2 separate regions of the Homo sapiens genome follow, and region 1 is linked to region 2. The links come from fine-mapping of genetic effects on gene expression. Tissue or cell type: cerebral cortex. Region 2 holds a variant in brackets; the other region holds the start of a gene. All regions are shown on one strand. Distances are from middle to middle.

Region 1 (4,390 bases), 43 kb after region 2:
TGAGGATGGAGTGGCTCACCCTCAGTCAACAGGCCAGACTCAAGGTGGTATAATGTCTTAACCGCGGGTGCGGGCCTCCAGGTCTGACTCCCAACTCAGTTCTTCTTTAATAACCACACTTTGTTAATTTTCCTTAACAGGGGTTCCTGGCAAGTCATTTCTCCCTCGGGCCTTCGGTTTCCTCACCTACAAGATGAGAGGGCTGGACCAGATGGAAATTCAGGGGGTAAGGGGATGTCCTCACGCAGCCCACCCCCACCCCCACGGGACCCTGGAGCCTCCATCCCAGTTCCCACCACGCACCCGCTCCACAAATCCTGCCCAAGGTGAGGGCTGGTCCTGGGTCCTCTGGCTGCCGCATCAGCGAGTGCAGGAGGGAGGGGAAGCCTCCAAGGGGGTGACGTGGGCTCAAAGATGCAACTCGGCCAGGAGTGAACTGGGGCCCCCGAAGGAGGTGTCCGGGCCGCTCCTGGAGCCCAGCCCGGGTCCCCGAACCCCTTACCTCCAGGGTCTGTATCTCCTGCTGGGTGAGGTCGTTAGACACAGCGCACTTGGTGCACAGCCCGCACAGGCTGCCAATGAAGATGACGATGAGCTTCTGGAGCTGCCCGCACTGCTGCAGCGCCCGGCTGGCCGCAGCCCCTGTGCCACCCTCCGTGGCCGCCGCATCACCCCCACCACCGCCCTCCTTCTTCTCTCCCACCGCCTCCACAGGCAGCGCCACTCTATGCAGGCCACAGGGGCCTAGGCAAGGAGCCCGGGGCGCCGGCGCCTAGGCAAAGAATCCCTGAGCCAGGAGAGCTGGACCAGGAGCACCCCTCGGCGCTGCCCTTGCCAGGACGCCAGTAGAGCTGGCAGCCGAGTCTGCCGCTCCTGCCCTCAGAGCCGTGGCGGCGGGGACAAAAATCCTCGGTGGCGGGGGCAAAAAGTCGCGGTGACAAAAAGCGGCGGCGACCGGGGCAAAAAGTCGCGGCAGCAAAAAGCCGCGGCGGCGGGGGCAAAAAGCGGCGGCGACAGCGGCAAAAAGCCGTGGCGGCGGGGGCAAAACGCCGCGGCGGCGAAAAAGTCGCTGCGGCAGGGGGGCAAAAAGCCGTGACAGCGGGGCGCAAAAAGCCGTGGCGGGTAAAAGGCCGTGGCGAGTAAAAAGCCGCGATGGCAAAAAGCTGCGGCGGGCAAAAAGCCACGGCGGCGGTGGGGCAAAAAGCAGCGGCGGTGGCGGAGGGGCAAAAAGCCGCGGCAGCGAGGGGGCAGAAAGCCGCGGCGGCAAAAAGCCAAGGCGACGAGTGTGCAAAAAGCTGTGTCGGTGGTGGGGCAAAAAGCCGCGGCGGTCAAAAAGCCGAGGCAAGGTGGGGGCAAAAAGCCGCGGCGGCGGAGGGGCAAAAAGCCGCGGCGGCGGGTGTGTGGCAGAAAGCCGCGGCGGGCAAAAAGCCGCGGCGGCGAGGGGGGCACAAATCCGCGGCGGGCAAAAAGCCGCGGCGGCGGGGGGTAAAAAGCCGCGGCGGGCAAGAAGCCGAGGCGGGGTGGGGGCAAAAAGTCGCGGCGGCGGGGGGCAAAAAGTCGCGGCGGCAGGGGACAAAAAGCCGCGGCGGGTAAAAAGCCGTGGGGGCAGGGGGGAAAAAGCCACGGCGAGGAAAAAGCCGCGGCGGCGGGGGGGGCAAAAAGCGGCGGGGTGCAAAAAGCGGCGGGGTGCAAAAAGCGGCGGGGGACAAAAAGCCGCGGCGGCAAAATTCGCAGCGGCAAGGGGTCAAAAAGCCGCGGCGGGCTAAAAGCCCTGGCGCCGGGGGGGCACAAAGCAGCGGCGGGCAAAAAGCCGAGGCGGGGTGGGGGGAATAAGCCGCGGCGGCGGGGGGGCAAAAAGCCGTGGCGGCGGCGGTGGAGGGCGAAATAATGGAGATGGAGTGGAAGGCCGGCACAGCTTGGCATTGCTGGAGTGCGATGTGATAGGAAATGAGCAGCCAAAGACAAAAAGATGTAAGTAGGCTTGACTCATTGAAGCTAAGAACCCAGATGTTATCTTGAGGGTATTAACTAATAAGCAGTTTAAATCAGAATGACACATTCTGATTTGTTTCTTGTACGTTCACATTTGGCAGGCATAGATACTGTTTGAAGAGAGAAAAGTCAGTAGAGAGAGGTAACAAACTTAAATATGTGCCAAGTCTAGAAACAAGAGACCAGGGGGATAGGGACCTTTCAAAATAAAATGCAAGATTTGAAAACTGATTGGCTGGGGGATGAGGAAAAGGCAGGTCTTTAAGGTCCATCCCTGTTTTGCTTTAAGTTGTTAGGGGGTGGTTTTATCACATGTTGTAGAATATGTCATTTCAGTTTTGAACATCTTGAGTTAAATTGTCCTAGCATATCTTATGAATTTGATTTTCTTCCCTGGGAAGCTAATATTTCAAACACTTAAAGAGTATATAGATTTCCAACTTGTATCCAGTTTATAAAACTATCTCTAGGCTGCTGATTTCAGGAGGAGGCTTATGAGTATTCTCCTTGCAGAGAATATATCAGGAGTTAACAGCAGCTTCAATATTTGTGGATGACCAGTTAACTAAGCCACCTCTTAGTGTCTTTAGTTGGGAAATCTTAGCTGAAGATATTCAATAATGAACCAAGAGTGACTAAGAAATTCAATATTTAAGTATATTTCATTGTAATTAATTTGAATTGAAGTAGCCATATACAGCTAGTATTTACTATATTGAACAATGCAAATAAGAGGAAAAAATTAATAACCATCTCTAATACCACATGCCAAAATCCTCATCAATTTATTCTAGCTAAAGGAGTTGATCAGAAGCAGTAGTTGAAAGCACCAACTAAACCAGCTGGGGTTAGTTCACTGTCATTCTCTCAGAACCATCTCTCCTCTGAACAAAACAAGTACAAGAGTTCATTGTGAATCTGCATTCTCCTTGCCTATTTTAAGGTTTTGATGTTGACGCAAATTTGTGAAATCCCTCCTGTGGTGTGATATTTCGTTTTCCTTGCTTTGTGTTAGGACAAGAATGCTTCAGCTCTTAATTTAAAATTATGTTTCTCCCTCCTAGGTTGAGTGAACTTAGAATGCATTCTCTGACATATCCAAGATTTTGTTAATATGAATTTCGGGAAAAAAGCATACTTAATTAGCTAAGACGTCTTATTCTAAGCTTGACCCTATGTTCGACATCTTTTGAATTTCTAGTTGCATGGGCTGCTCTCTGACACTGGTTAGTGACCTGGAAGCTCTATTAATGTTAGGGGAGGTGGTGTATGAGCATTAGAGGTATCCTTGCAAGGAAAGACTTGTCTTATCTCAATACGTCTTTTTTTTTTGCACAGAAGAAAGTCAATGTCTGAGTCTTCTAAAATCTTCCTATTTCCAAATTGCAGATTATGATTGATTCCTAAACAAAGACCTAATTTTTGACTCAGAGACGTGGCAAGCTAGTGAATCACCATTATAATTTAACAATCTTCAAGATAAAATTATCTCTGATATTTAGATTTTGCCCAATTATTAAGATATTTGGGTGTTTAGTTAAGAATGGAAAACTCTAGTCTCTTGAGCAGAGACTATAAAGGCCTCAGATGATCATTTTTAATTTTATGCTCTTTTCTTTAACACCTTCAACACAGTTGGAAGCAGCCGATATTCCCCAGAGTTGTTGTGTTTTTTAAACCAAATGCATGGTTCAGTGGTAGAAAACTGGGCTGATCCAAGCTGTTTTCAGTAAACACTTCATTTCAGGTGACCCATTTCATATTAAATAATCTCTAGATCCTGTCTTCGAAACTAACTAGATCAGATAAACTACCCTGGATTTTCTCTTTTTAGGGTCTGAGAGCTGCAGTCACTTTTGTGAAAATGATTACAATGACAAGATAGAGTTGTAGATGGGGAAAATGTTTTGACTAATTTAAGCATAGTGGTATTTCATATGAGAATTTAAGTTACACACATTTGAAAATTATAATGGAGTCTCTTGGCTGAGCTTTAAAAAGAAATAGCGTTTAGGCTAAAAAGGGAACTGCTACCTCTCCTAAAATCAGAAAGATGTTACAGTAATTCTCCATTCTCTAGAATTATCAAGAAGCACCTTTGTGATGATTTACTTTTGCTCTTGCGAGTGTGAGCCCGTGTAGTCGTGGAACCATCAATTAGAATGGTGGCTTTCTGATCCCAAAGTCACTCATTCTGAAAACAATATTTTTCATAAATTTGAAAGTGAGAAGTTTTGATCTTGCCATTCCCAAGTAACTCTCTTAATAAGAGGCATCAGCATGCTTCAGTGACAGCTGTCACCTTCCATTGCTGAGAGTCATCTTTGAGTTCTCTATTTCACTCCCTACACTCCAATTTAGCTGCAGTTCTCTTGGCCAGTCCTATGAAATACATCCA
Region 2 (4,390 bases):
GGCTGGTCTCAAACTCCCAACATCAGGTGATCCGCCCACCTAGGCCTCCCAAAACGCTGGGATTACAGGCATGAGCCAACACGCCCAGCCATCTGTTGCTTATTTTTTAAGCAGAGTATTAAGTCTTTTCTTATAGAGTTGTTAGGAATCCTTACATATTCTGGTTGTTAATCTCTTATTAGATGGATAGTTTTCAAATATTTTTTCCCATTCTGTGGGGTGCTCTTCACTTTGTGATTGTATCCTTTGTTGTGCAGAAGCTTTTTAACTTGATGTGATCTCATTTGTCCATTTTGACTTCGCTTGCCAGTGCTGTGGGGTATTACTCAAGAAATTTTGCCCAAACCAATGTCCTAGAGAGTTTCCCCAAAGTTTTCTCATAGTAGTTTCATAGCTTTAGGTCTTCGATTTAAGTCTTTAATCCATTTTTATTTGATTTTTTTATGTGGCAAGAGATAGAGATCTAGCTTCATTCTTCACCATATGGATATCTAGTGTTCCCAGTACCATTTACTGAAGAGACTGTCTCTTCCTCAATTTATATTCTTGGCACCTTTGTCAAAAACGAGTTCACTATAGGTGTGTGGATTTGTTTCTGGGTTCTCTATTCTGTTCCATTGGTGTATGTGCCTGTTTTTATGCCAATACCATGCTATTTTGGTTACTATAGCTCTGTAGTATAATTTGAAGTCAGGTAATGTAATTCCTTCAGTTTTATTCTTTTTGCTTAGGATAGCTTTAGCTACTCTGGGTAATTTGTGATTCCATATAAATTTTAGAATAGTTTTTTTTTATTTCTGTGACATGGATTGCATTGAATCTGTAGATTGCTTTGGGTAGTACGGCCATTTTAGCAATATTAATTCTTCCAATTCATGAACATAAAATACCTTTCCATTTTTTGATGCCCTCTTTAATTTCTTTCATTAGTGTGTTATAGTTTTCATTGCAGAGATCTTTTATTTCTTTGGTTAATTCCTTGGTATTTAATTTTATGTGTGGCTATTATAAATAGGATAACTTTTAAACTTCTTTTTCAGACTGTTCACTGATGGCATATAGAAATGTCACTGACTTTTGTATGTTGACTTTGCACCCTGCAACTTTACTAAATTTATTCATAAGATTTAAAAGTTTATTAGTGGAGTCTTTAGGTGTTTCCAGCTATAAGATCACATCATCTGCAAACAAGAATAATTTGACTTCTTCCGTTCCAATTTAGATGCCCTTTATTTCTTTCTCTTGTCTGATTGCTCTAGCTAGGACTTCCAGTACTATGTCAAATAAGAGTGGTGAGATTGGGCATCCTTAATGTGTTCCAGATCTTAGAGGAAAGGCTTTCAGTTTTTCTATATTAAATATGATACTAGCTGTGGGTCTGTCACATATGGTTTTTATTATGTTGTGTACATTCCTCTTATGTCCAGTTTTCTGAGGGTTTCTTTTTTATCATGAAGGAATGTTGAACTTTATTCAATAGTTTTTCAGCATCAATTGAAATGATCATATGGATTTTATTCTGTATTCTGTTGATACGATGTATCACATTGATTGACTTGCATATTTCGAATCTTCCTTGCATCTCAAGGATAAGTCCCACTTTATCGTGATGAATGATCTTTTTAATGTATTGTTAAATTTGGTTTGTTAGCATTTTGTTGAGGATTTTTACATGAATATTCATCAGAGATATTGGCCTGTACTTTTCTTTTTTTTGATGTGTCTTTGTCTCATTTTGGTATTAGGGTAAAAATGATCTCATAGAATAAGTTTGGAAGTATTCCTTCCTCCTCTTTTTTTTTGGAAAAGTTTGACTAGGATTAGTGTTAGTTTTTCTTTAAATGTTTGGTAGAATTCAGCAGTAAAGTCATTGGGTCCTGGGATTTTCTTTACTGGGAGATATTTTATGACAGCTTTGACCTTGTTATTTGTTATTGGTCTGTTCAGGTTTTAGATTTCTTCTTGGTTCAATTTTGGTAGGTTGTATGTATCTAGGAATTTGACTATCTCTTCTAGATTTTCCAATTTATTGGCATATAATTGCTCATAATAGCCACTAATGATCCTTTGAATTTCTGCAGATTCAGTTGTAATGTCTCTTTTTTCAATTTCTGGTTTTATTTATTTGAATGCTCTCCCTTTTTTTCTTAGTCTAACTAAAGGTTTGCCAATTTTGTTTAACTTTATAAAAAAA[C/A]CAACTTTTTGTTACATTGATCTTTTTTATGGTTTTCAATTTTATTTATTTCTGCTCAGATCTTTATTATTTCTTTTCTTCACTGATTTTGGACTTGGTTTTCTCTTGCTTTTCTAGTTCTTTAAGATACGGCATTAGATTGTTTATTTGAAGTTTTTCCTCTTTTTTGATGTAGGCATTTATAGCTATAAACTTCTCTCTTAGCACTGCTTTTACTATATCCCATAGATATTGGTATGTTGTGTTTCCATTATCATTTCTTTCAAGAAATTTTTCAATTTCCTTCTTAATTTCTTCATTGCCCCACTGGTCACTCAGGAGCATATGTTAAATTTCTATGTTTGTATAGTTTCAGAAATTCCTCTTGTTATTAATTTCTAGTTTTATTCCATTGTGATCAGAGAAGATGCTTGATATTATTTCAATTTTTAGCATGTTTTAAGGCTCGTTTTGTGACTTAACATATGGTCTCTCCTTGAAAATAATTCATGTGCTGAGGAGAATAATGTGTATTCTGCAGCTCGTGGATGAAATGTTCTATAACTATCTACTAGATCTATTTGGTCTATAATATAGATTAACTCTGATATTTCTTTGTTCATTATCTGTCTGGGAGATCTGTCCAATGCTGAAAGTGGGGTGTGGAAGTCTCCAGCTTTTATTATATTGGGACCTATGTCTCTCTCTCTCTCTCTCTCTAGGTTTAATAATATTTCCTTTATATGGGTGCTCCAGTGTTGGGTGCATATATATTTACAATTGTTATATCATCTTGTTGAATTGACCCCTTTTTCATGATATAGTGACTTTCTTTGTCTCTTCTTATAGTTTTTGTCTATAGTTGTTGATGTAAGTACAGCTACTCCTGTTCTTTTATGGTTTTCATTGGCATGGAATATCTTTTTCAGTTCTTTAAGTCTATGTGTATCTTTAAAGCTAAAGTGTGTTTCTTGTAGACAACAGATCATTGGCTGTTGTCTATTGATTGGATAATTTAGTCCATTTACATTCAATGTTATTAATGATAAGTAAGGACTTACTTACTCCTCCCATTTTGTTATTTATTTTCTGTGTCTTTTTGTGTGTGCGTGGTCTTCTCTTCCTTCTTTCCTTCCTTTCTCTCTTCCTTTAGTAAAGGTGATTTTCTCTGGTGATATGATTTAGTTTATTGCTTTTTATTTTCTGGTATCCATTGTATGTTGTTTGGTTTGAGGTTACCACGAGGCTAGCAAATACTATCTTATAAACCATTATTTTAACCTGATAACAATTTAACGCTGCTTGGATAAACAAACAAGCAAAAAGAAAACTAACAAAAACTACACTTTATTTTGTTGTTTTATTTATATCATATAGTACTTCCTTTGTCTTTTTTTGTTGTTGTCGTTGTTTTGAGACGGAGTTTCACTTTTGTTGCCCAAGCTAGAGTGCAATGGTGCCATCTCGGCTCACTGCAACCTCCACCTCCTGGGTTCAAGTGATTCTCCTGCCTCAGCCTCCTGAGTAGCTGGGATTACAGGCATGTAACACCACATTTGGCTAGTTTTGTATTTTTACTAGAGACAGGGTTTCTCCATGCTGGTCAGGCTGGTCTTGAACTCCTGACCTCAGGTGATCTACCCACCTCGGCCTCCCAAAGTGCTCCTGGCGTGAGCCACCGTGCCCAGCCTGTACTGCTTATGTCTTGAAAAGTTGTTGTAGTTATTATTTTTATTGGTTCATCATTTAGTCTTTCTACTTAGGATAAGAGTAGTTTACACACCACAGTTACAGTGTTATGATATTCTGTGTACTTACTATTACCAGTGAGTTTTATACATTCAAGTGATTACTTATTGGTCATTAATGTCCTTTTATTTCTGATTGAAGGACTCCCTTTAGCATTTCTTGCAGCACAGGTCTGGTGTTGATGAAATCCCCCAGAAATCCCTCAGCTTTTGTTTGTCTGGGAAAGTCTTTATTTCTCCTTCACGTTTAAAGGAAATTTTCTCCAGATAAGCTATTCTAGGGTAAAAGTTTTTTCCTTCAGCATTTTCAATATGTCATGCCACTCTCTCCCAGGCTGAAAGGTTTCCTTGGAAAAGTCTGCTGCCAGACATACTGGAGCTCCATTGTATGTTATTTGTTTATTTTCTGTTACTGCTTTTAGGATCCTTTCTTCATCCTTGATCTTTGGGAGTCTGATTATTAAATGCC

Alleles and levels. Positions count from the first base shown, and alleles are read on the strand shown. Sizes are in standard deviations (SD) of each study's normalised expression.
As copies of C replace A in region 2, the expression in cerebral cortex of the gene that starts at base 2,235 in region 1 goes down (large effect, 0.75 SD a copy in GTEx).

The links.
Region 1: it holds the start of LINC02798, and the variant in region 2 is fine-mapped to the expression of LINC02798 in cerebral cortex (GTEx, PIP 0.90).

The regions. Positions count from the first base shown.
Region 1 is chr1:121,393,417-121,397,806 of GRCh38, reverse strand. It overlaps LINC02798 (long intergenic non-protein coding RNA 2798), which reads right to left and starts at 2,235. Exons shown (of 2, transcript XM_047438024.1): 1 at 503-2,235. The coding sequence starts at 1,923. The coding sequence ends at 880. It overlaps SRGAP2-AS1 (SRGAP2 antisense RNA 1), which reads left to right. Exons shown (of 4, transcript NR_104189.1): 1 at 1-44; 2 at 141-326. RefSeq lists a silencer at 1,864-2,158.
Region 2 is chr1:121,436,051-121,440,440 of GRCh38, reverse strand. The region is part of intron 1 of LINC02798 (long intergenic non-protein coding RNA 2798); the gene reads right to left. Among named protein-coding and RNA genes, the nearest start is that of SRGAP2-AS1, 40 kb to the right of the region's middle. The variant C/A (reference allele first, on the strand shown) is at 2,195.